Linked DNA regions of Homo sapiens: region 1 is linked to region 2. The links come from fine-mapping of genetic effects on gene expression. Tissue or cell type: whole blood. Region 2 holds a variant in brackets; the other region holds the start of a gene. All regions are shown on one strand. Distances are between the middles of the regions.

What was found. PIP is the estimated chance that this variant, and not a neighbour inherited with it, causes the effect.
Region 1: it holds the start of PKP4, and the variant in region 2 is fine-mapped to the expression of PKP4 in whole blood (INTERVAL, PIP above 0.99).

Annotation. Positions count from the first base shown.
Region 1 is chr2:158,454,699-158,459,849 of GRCh38, forward strand. PKP4 (plakophilin 4) reads left to right here and starts at 2,254. Exons shown (of 22, transcript NM_003628.6): 1 at 2,254-2,520. CCDC148 (coiled-coil domain containing 148) reads right to left here and starts at 2,055. Exons shown (of 14, transcript NM_138803.4): 1 at 1,717-2,055. The coding sequence starts at 1,741. LOC124907900 reads right to left here and starts at 3,436. Exons shown (of 1, transcript XM_047446754.1): 1 at 2,433-3,436. The coding sequence starts at 2,756. The coding sequence ends at 2,433. RefSeq lists silencers at 1,959-2,253, 1,984-2,353, 2,574-2,623, 2,874-2,923, 2,944-3,003 and 1 more and an enhancer at 3,534-3,613.
Region 2 is chr2:158,097,445-158,102,595 of GRCh38, forward strand. UPP2 (uridine phosphorylase 2) reads left to right here and starts at 4,432. Exons shown (of 7, transcript NM_173355.4): 1 at 4,432-4,681. The coding sequence starts at 4,620. The variant C/A (reference allele first, on the strand shown) is at 2,425.

The sequences.
Region 1 (5,151 bases), 360 kb after region 2:
AACTGAGAATCAGTGAAGACACAGCCAAGTCTGAATAGCATGAACTTTTAGTGGAATGAAGTGATTCTTTAACCTTGTCTAGCAATGCTTAGTAGCGCAGGAGCAAGTTCAAAAGAAACCTTTCAACTAAATACAAAAATAAACAAAAAAATTAATGTTGAGTGGCAACTTATTTCAGGGGACATTATTCATGGTGGATTTCAGTAACATTTTAATTATGACAAACACGAAATCTACAATATCAAAATAGTCATCTGAGAAAAACACCCACACAAAAAGATTATTGGAGTAATAATCTTTTATTTTCTTCTTTCTATGCTAGCCTAAGGCAAGAGAAAAGACCCATTTTTTCTTTCCATTAGACACAACTTTCATTCATTTGATGTTATTGAAATTTAAAAGAAGCAAAATCATTGGTATCTTTTCATTAAACATGTGTCTCATATAACAATTTGTGGTTTACTTTTTCTGTTCTATAAACAAAAACACACATTAAAAAGCCGGAAGAAGTAAAAAACAGCCTATTTCCATGATGGCCAGCCATGGCACAGCACTTCCTGGCCCCTGCTGATCCCTTCTCAATTCTGAAAATATTTAGGGGGAACATACACACGTTCACCTGTTTTGTTCCACAGTCCTACCCTGTGTAGGACTGTCAACTGAGTTCACATTTTACTACAAATGTGGAGAGGTTTTTTTTTTTCCAATCAAGGCACCATATTAACATTTCTTAGGTTACATCTTTGTAATCTTCAATTATAGTAAGATAAAAACCAGTAGCAAAGCATATCACCCAACTTAAAATTCAGAACAATACTTAGACATATGCAGCTTGCACACACATTAACCTGTTTCTCCCAACAAAATATTTGTAATTTCCAAAATCCTATCAGCTTTTTCACACAATATGGTCCCTCCAATTTGAGGGGTAGTAACATAGTCTCCTTACTAAAGAGATTAGTCTAAAAAAAGTAAAATCGCCAAAAGAATGTAAGAATATCAGTGGCTATAGGCTAGAGCAATATCATCTTTTAAAGCCTAATATGTTCATGAAATCTCACTTTAAGAAGGTGATATCTAAACATAAAATTTATTGACAAAAAACAATTAGTATTGATAAACCACCACAAAATGATTTTAAATGAAAGTAGAAGACATTATTAAAGCTCAAGATTTTTGCGTGTACTGATTTCATGCCTCAGGTTATTTCCATATCAAATTTAAAGAGATACTGGAAAATAGAAAACAAAATCCATCAACTGTAATCCATTTCCCTTACTCTTTTGTGAAATCATCACAAGGTGTGAAGGATTGTTTCTGTTTCCTCTATCTTTAACAAGCCTGTAACCTCTCAAGTGAAAGAACATGCACCTGTCAAGCTCATAGTGCGGGATGTACACACAGATGTGTTTAATAAATATCTGCCCACAGGGAGATTAGAGGTTTGCTTTGAGAATCAGGGAACAGGCTAGCTCATGTGTTGACGCTTTGGCATCTATCATACAATCCGCCACCTCGTTCCCTTACCAAAATATCCTCAAAGGAAATCCTCTTTGAGTCTTTCAGAAGAGTTATGAGTTTGAGGACCCAAAACGTTGAGGAAAGATCCACCCCAGGGAAGGGGGAGTGGCTGCAGAGAACAAACATAAGTAGGATTTAGGTGGCTCAGTGACGTCAGGAGGAAGCAGCGATGGAAGGGATGGGGTGCAAACTCACCTGGAGAAGCAGAAGCTGCACACATGTCAAAGGTCAAAGGGCATAGCCTCAGGGACTCCCCAAACGCAGGAAAAGTGAAACGCCCACTCCTGGGCTCTCGCCGTCAGGGGTACATCTAAGGGCTCAGCTGTTCCTACCTTTGACGCCAGGGACAAACCCTACCAGGCACAGTTGGGATTGGCAGTAAGGCAAGGAAAGCCTGCCCCAGATTTCAGAGCCAGCGCTGGGGAATCTCCCTGTCCTCTCCGCCACCCCCTCCCGCGCCCGAGACCTGAGACACCTTCTCTCTCACACCCACCCTCTCCAGGCCCTCTCGCGCTGAACAGCATCGGTCTCTATGGCGACCTGAAACCGCAGCTCCCATTGGCCTGTTCAATATGAGGGCCGGGCCAATGGGGAGGGCCAGCCCTCTCCTTCCCGCCAATGGGGTGGCGGGAGCTGGCCCGGGGACGGCGGCGTGCTGACGTTCCCGGGAGCCCGGGGCTGGCCGGGCGGGAGGGCTGGCAGCGGGGCGGGCGGCGGCGGCGGCCTCTGGGCAGTAGAGGGGGCTCCGGGGCTGAGTCCGCGTCGACGCCGGCCGCGGAGGCGGCACCATGGGCAAGGGGTAGAGGGGCAAGTTGGCCACCGCCGCCGCCGGGGGTGGTGGGAGAGCCGCTCCGGGGGCGGGGGCCGGTGGGGGAGGGAGGGGCGGGCAGCCGCGCCGCCGCGGCACTTTTTTAATTTTTTCGGGTGCCGCAGCGGCGACCCCTCGGCGCCGATGTCCCTGATCCCTGGAGCGACGACGGCCGCTGCCTAAGCTGGAAAGTAAGTGTGTGGGCTCGCGGGAGGGCGCGGAGACTCCTGCCCACGAGACCCTCGGCCCTCGCCCCGAACACGCGCCAGGGCCAGGACCTGCGCGCCGGGGGCCGGGGGCCTCCCTCCCGCTGCCGCGTCCCCAGCGCCTCGCGGCCGCCGCGGCTTTCCTGCCCCGCCTCGTGTTCCTGCCCGCACTCGCCTGCTGCTCCCCTCCCCCCGGCAGGCGCACAAGTTTCACCCTCCATTTGCTTTTCCCGGCGATTCCTCTCCCCGGTCTCCCGTACGCGCAGCGCACGACCTCTGCCCACGCTGGGCTGTTCGGATTCAGAGCTCCCAGCCCCGAACTTGAGCGCCGCGCTGAGCCCTGCTGGACGCCCTCGCGGCGGCTTCCCCGCTGCCTGCCGCCGCGCGCCCCAAGTCGCCCTCGACACCACTGGGCGCCCGCCCTCCTCAGCACTCGGGGCCGGCTGTCTGTCCTTCTAGCCCCAGATCCTGCACCTTGGTCCCCTCCCCGTCTTCCCACGCCCCTGCTGCCCGCGCGGTCTTGCGTTTGTCCCCGAAGTCCTGTACTCCTTGCCGGTCCTGCCCACCCCTCTGCCTAGTGCGCCCCTCTCTACCGGCCGCGGATCCTCACGCTCCACCCCTCCCGGCTCCCCAGCGCCGAGCCTCGCCGCTGCCCTCCTGCGCCGCCGCTTCCTCCTCTCCCTGCCAGGAGTTGAAGCGGAGCTGCGGCACCTCCCTGGCGGATCTGGTATCCCCGCCCGCTGCCGAGGCTGCCGGCCCTCTCCCCTGGACCGCTACCCGGAGAGCGAGCGGCGGGGCCGGGATTTGGCTGCGTGTTGGCTGAGTGCGACACACCGCGAGCGCGGGCAGTGGAGGTGCCGCGGCGGCCGTGGCCGCTCGGGGCGCAGCGGTAGTCAGGTGTGTGTGTACAGCGGGGGACGCGCGCTGCCGGCTCCTGGGCTGGCGACAGATTGTGCAGGAATGCGAGGAATGCACCAGGGGCAGAGTCCACACAGCCCGCCGCGGCTGCCCTAGCGCCTTCCCTCCCCAGCTCTCGCCGCGCAGCCAGAGGTCACCGGAGCATCTTCGGAGCTGGTGAGCCTCATTCCACTCCTCTCCTCCCATAGCTTCCCTCCATGCGGCAGAGGGGAAGCGCGGTAATTCTTTGGGGCTCCAGCTAGCCTTTCGTCTGGGTTTTTGCTGCATTGGTCTTCAGGACCGTGAATTTGGGGCCGATGACTGTGTAGCCAAGGTTATTGATCATTGCACAGGGCTGTTGGCAAGTTTGGTGTGCAAGGTTTGGATAGTGCCTGGTTTTCACTAGGGTTTTCTGAAAACCAGCAGAAACAGGGGGCCTGAAGGTTGTTAGAGTAATGAGCTTGCAGCCAACATATTTTAGCTCTATCAAAAAATGCCTGTTAGTGCTCACGGGCATGTACTGCGAGAGAGATCTTGAATGCATCACTTTGGTATCCTAAGAAGTGTAATTTTTTTCCCTCGTCATACTGGGCTGTGTTTAGACCTCGTATAATACATAATGAATAGAAACAGAGAAGCACTGTTCGGTCAGCGATGGGACAGATAGAACTGTCTGGTACAGTTAAATTCGGGACGTGTCAGTTACCATTGAAAGTAACACGGGGACACCACAATCATGTATATTTCAAGATGTAATTTATTAGTGGAGGTCTCAGTTTTTTCTCTTTGTTACTGAGTTTGACTGAAAAAAAAAAATAAATGCTGCCCTACAAGTTTTAAAGAACGGTAATTATTTACGTGTAAAATCAATGATGGCTAGTATGCATTTTTGGTCAAATTTTGTTTTCCTTAATACGGGAGAGCAAAATTTTGACAGAAAATGGTTCGCTAGAATTGAGCTTAGATTCTTTTTATTTTTAAAGAGAAACTAGAAGAATGCTTCTCTTCTTGAATGCAGTATATTGCTGTAGGAGTATCTTCGTTTTGGTGCCTGTGAAACAGTTATGGAAAATGGCAACATGAAAACGAGAACAACTAATGTCTGAAATAAGTGTTTCTGGGTGTTGAAAAGCATCATATGTGTGTTTTTATTTGACACAATTTGCTTTGCAGGTTGCATTTATGATAAACCTCTTTGCACCTGGTTATTTTATGTCAGATTCAGTAAAATAATAAGTCAGTTGTCTGACCAATCAGCTTTCTTCCAACACCTACTTTGTGTAGATCATGGACATTGAAAACTATTAAATAGGAGCCTTTAGTTAAGGACTCAACAGAAAGGAAAAAAAATAGAAAAAAATATTTTGCACTCAGAAACGTTTATGTTTTGGTTGCTACGTTGTTTTTCAGCTATGTGCATAATCAGTGAATCTTCTAATTTAGAGGTTTAATTTGTGTCCAGTAACACTGTGGAGGATATTGGGAGGTGTTTGTAAATGCCAACAGGAAACTTTTATTATGTAACAGTATCATATTACAGCAGTGTTTAACCCATGCTTAACCCGTGCTTTTTTGACTTGATGTCAAGATTGGGAAGTAAAAGCAAATTTAGTTTCCCTGCCGCATTAGAAATTGAAAACCCTGTTCAGATGTATGGATCACACACACACACACACACACACGACACACACACACACGATTGGCTGTGCAGATAGTTTT
Region 2 (5,151 bases):
AAATTTTCCTCAGGCAAATTTCAACTTTATAAAGATTCCAGATGTCAATGCCTTGTGGGTCCTGGAAAATATGTCATTGTTTTGTATTTCTAAATCTCATACACAATTATTAAAACTTTTACAACATAACCACATCTCCTGAGACTGGAAACAGGAGCTTGCAGTCCTTTGCAAGGATTAGGGGATGCTGCAATCCTCCCCAGGGCCTCAGCATGGGTCAGCCTCCACTACACCAACCCTCGGGGGAAGGTATCTGTGCAAACATTCAGCTGCCACCCCTCTGCCTGGCCCTGCCTAGAACAGCAGTGCATTTTGACAGAATTGTGGAGGGAAACACCCTCCAAAAAAGAGCAAAACAAACACCGTAGGGTTGTAGCATTTGTCCTAGGGATATCATTCTTGCTTATAATTATAATATAGTACTTTGAAACCTAATACTAATCTCTTTTTTTCTTTTCTGTATACATGGCCTTTTTCATAGTGCACACTCCCGTCTATCTGCTGGGGAATGGGAGTTAGAGTAGGAAATTAGAATTCTTTCAATAGCAATTATGAGTCCCTAATAAGGCAATGTGAGGAAAAATAAAGATTTTAGATATGTTTATACTGTCATTAACACAAAAAAACCTAGGTCTGGACTTGAACACGGAGATTGCTAGAAACCAGAGAGAACTCAGGATAGGATATAAGGGAAATTCACATAAGACAGAGAGAAAAAGTACAAAGAGGGTCTCCTCTTTTAATTATGAGAGTAAGAGGGCAGGAGAAATGGTGCAAGAGGCAGGCCAAGGTCTGCGGTGACCACCCACCCTTGGGGGTGAAAATAAAGGAGGAGGGTGCTATCCCTATCCAACTAGGCATAGGCCAGCCTGAGAACACTGCAGCCAGAGGCCTGCATCCTTCGAGGCAGCCTAAGAAAGGTTGTGATTCTCTAGGAGAATTTCCATATTCAGCTTAGGCCTGCATCCAAGATGGTGAGGGGGAGGGCCAGCATAATGCTCCCTTAGGGCCAGATGGGGCCAGCTGCATCTCAGTGAGCGCATTCAAGGACCCATAGACTACACCTAAGTAGCCACAGGTCCCTTATGAGAAAACAGCGGACAATGCCTGAGCTGCATCATCACATAGAGCCAAGGGATAATACAAGGAAATGAGCACATGGATCCAGGAGCCCTTCTCTTGCTCCTTGCTCATCCCCACCATTCCATTTTGTACGTGTCACCTCAGATGGGAGCAGTGGGCACAAGGAAGAAATTGGATGAACGCGTATCTAAAAGAAAATAAATCATCTAAATGAGACTATTTAAACCAAAGACAGAGATGCTGTTAATTGGCAAGTTTAAAAACACTGTCCTCTGCTCTATCTTCCAGGAGGGTGCGTATACTGAGAAAGACTGGATAGCTAATAGAAAATACTGTACATTTTCTTTGCACGTATATGTAATAATGTTAAACTATAACACATCTATACCATAAAAAATTGTACACTCTTAATAGCTCCCCTTTTATACAAAGGTTTTGAGGCACCTATAACCTATGTATTGGAAAATAAACACTCAAGGAAAGATCAAAAGATCTTTAATTAGTTTTAGTTATTTGTCACGAAGGAGAGAATGCTGAATTTACACTTAGTATATGTGTTTTAACATACAGAAGGTTAGTATGAGGAGTGTGGTAACTTGCGTTTTCTTTATTCATGGAATGTCAATATTTTTGTGGAAGAAAAGAAGCAAGAACTGTCTTTTTCATGCCTTTATCTTCAGCACTTCCTAGACTTCCTGGAGCATGGTGTATGCTCAGTTAATATTTATTGAATGAATAAATGAAAATATAAACTGCTTAGCCTCAGAATGGATAGCTTAGGACATTTTTGGAGCTCTCTCAAGCCATTGCTGGTGCTATGGGCTGAATGGAAGAGCCAGGGAATCTGATGTGGCAGGAGGAAAGGGCTCTTGGTTACCCCATCCCCACTCTGAGACCCGCCAAAGAAGGAGGAGATGTGAGGACTTTGCTGTGCGTTGACACCCCTACTCCCATAGGCTGTGAGGCTAGTGTGTGTGTGCATGTGTAAGGGGCAGTGTCTTCTGGGAAGGGGTGCCTGCTGCAGCCTCAGGTGAACCAATACAACCTTTGCTGATACCCCATGGAGAGACATCTAAGAATTGAGACTCTGGTCCCAGGGCTAGTCTAGCAGGCAGGGAAAGAGCACAAAAGCATGGTCTCAGGGAGGCCTAAATGCTATCCAGTTGTACATCAAGACTGTGCTTTCTTTTTCTAATATTAGAGGTTCAGGGACAAAATTAAGCCAGATAGAAAACTGTAATGGAATTGAGAATGTAATAGTGCCAGCATCATAAAGGAAGACGGTAGGAAGTGAAGTGTTTTGTCTCAGGCAAGACACCATGGAGCATGGATTTGGCAGAT[C/A]TGATGCAAGACCCTCCTGATCACAAGGCTGGACTGAGTCATGGGCTGTGCCTGGCACACAGCCTTTGTTTGCAAATTACCCAGTGGCCAGGTCTGAGTTTGCCTTGTGCACTCCTGTGTGCATAATTTTTAAAAACGAAACCTTTTCCCCTGCTCTTCAGGTGACTGGCCTTTTGCAATACAGTCAATCAAAAAGCATTGCTGAGAAACAACCTACCATAAGAGCAGGATCGAGTCTTGAGAAGATTGAAAGGTGGGGAGAATAATTTAAGACTGCCCAGAAGGCATTAACTAGTATTCTACTTTCATCAACTTTTATAGATTCCACAAGATTATTCTGAACTTCATCCAAATGACAATTACTTGCCTAAATGTCTGACCGAGTTGTTACATGGGGTCCATAAATCTTAGATGGCATTACCTGGCACTGTTAGTGATCAAGATCACTGGTTGACTGAATCTGCACCGGAAACAGACATGTTAATCAACCTAGTTAATTCACTGTGGTAATTAATTACTGAACACTTATCTAATTAGCTAACATTTTTACCTCTCAAAGCCAGAGGTAAATGCCAGATTGAAATTGGTGGTTCTCCTCATTATACCTTAAAAATAAAATTGAGAGATATGGCATGGAATATCAAATAAAGGTGTGCTGGTGCCAGCAGTAGTGAGTGAGTATGTTGAGTCTCAAAATTGCCAGTGGTTCCTGGGAAGGAGCAGCAGGTAGACCAGCCTGAGATGAGTCAGGAGGTAAGAGACAGATGTATACAAGCTATCAACAAGAACTACTGTTCTAAGTTACAAAGGCAACACACATGTTAAAGACTATTTTGCCTCATAGTCATCATTACCTTTTCCAGGATAAGTGTCCTCAGGAATTTTTTGCTATCTGGGCACAGTTGCAAACGTCTAGTTGGTGGTAACAGTGGCAAGATTTAGGCTACATGGATTCCCCAATATAGAGTCCCCTATTCTTTTTCCTTCCTATTCTGTAAACTTTGCTGTCTGACCAAGATGGACCAAAGGAGGCCAGTGGGGCATTCAAAGAATTTGCCAAGAATGACTGTCACCAGGAAGAGGAGCATCTTCTAACATGGAGAACTCAGTTAGGATATGAGCACTTGATTCTTGACTGTGATGCACATTCTTGGAAAGAAATCCAAGCATATTAGGAGGTGTCTTGTATTTGCTGCTGTTTGGCATTTATAGACATTTTAGGTTCTGATTTGCCTGAAAGCCATGAGACTACGTTCTTGAAGCTCTCACCAGCATAGAACTTCAGCTGATTGCTATGGGAGTGAAGAGAAAAAAGATCAGGATGAAGTTGTCTAGTTTTCTAGATTTTTCTGTCCCAAAAGTGAAAAGTGAGAAGCATTAGTGAAAGTAGTGAATTCATGCCTTTCTTGGCAGAGACTCCGTTTTCTGAAAATACTATGCTGTATTATTATTCCATGTGGATTAACCCCTGGTTCAATAAATTTTACCAATGGCCTACAGTTTAACTAAAGAAAGAGGCCCTGGGAAATAAGTTTTGTTTAATTATCAGTTCTTCTGTGTGAACTGGAATGAGCAAAGTTCAGATAAAGGGACATTCTGAGGTCCAGACTTTGGATGCTTCCCTAACTTGTGATGACAAAGAATGAAAACAAGTTGGCGAGGGGCTGGATGGAGATGGGGAACTGAAATGTTTGAGAACTGAAAGTTCTCGTATGTACTGGACACAGTTTTGAGAAGACCTGGTAGGTGTGTTATAGAAACCAAAAGAGGACTCGTATCCATATACAGTTGTCTCAAAGCAAATAAGCCTGTTTGCAACATCAAACCTGTGTTGGGATCAAGGACAGATGTAAGGGAAAGTTCTCACCAATAGTTAACAAGCTAACCAACCTGGTCAAAGAGCTAGGATGCCACACCTTCAAAGGGGGCCTATCTTCTTGAGGAAGTGCTGCTCTGAGAGCTGGGCTGTGGTATAAAAGTCATGTCAGGGAGGACATCTTTTATTTGATAGGAAAATTTAAAATGCTAAAGGAAAAATTTTCTTAGCAATTTCACAGGAAAACCTAAGTTTTAAGAGAGGTTATCATTCTGACTGGGAACTGAACTATTATGACTAGGTCTATAATTTAATAACAAGTCACAATATCTCTCTTTCTTGACATCAATTTAAGGTGACTTTTCACATAGTAGAGAGAATGGCTTCAGTTATACCTGCCTCCAATAGGTCCATGAGATCTGACAGGAATACATATGTTGGGTGAGTAATTTTGATTTTGTAAATTTGTTTTGATCAGATGGTTGCTCCTTGGATTTTGTATTAAATGATTAGATAATGGGCCTCTACAGTTAAGCAAATTTCTTAAATGTAGAGATTATATCACTGGATGCAGCTCATAAAGCAATAAAAACAGTGGAAAATGTATTTTCAATGACATTTTTACTCCTTGGTTTTGGGGGTTAGGGTTTGGCTCATCTAAGAAAATGGGGCAAAATAAATTATAAAAAACATGCAAAAGTTTAGCCAACCTTCAGTAGTAAACAAATTCAAGGTTCAGCCTGGGACTCACTATAGAGTTCAGCCCTTAATTCTAAGACCATGGGCTGCAAATGAGAAATAATTAAAAGGGCCTCCCAGTGCCTGAGGGAGGTTTAATTGTATTGCAGGATATTGTGGAGTGATTTCATATGCTTCATGATGGACCTTACATAGAATTTACTTCTGAAATA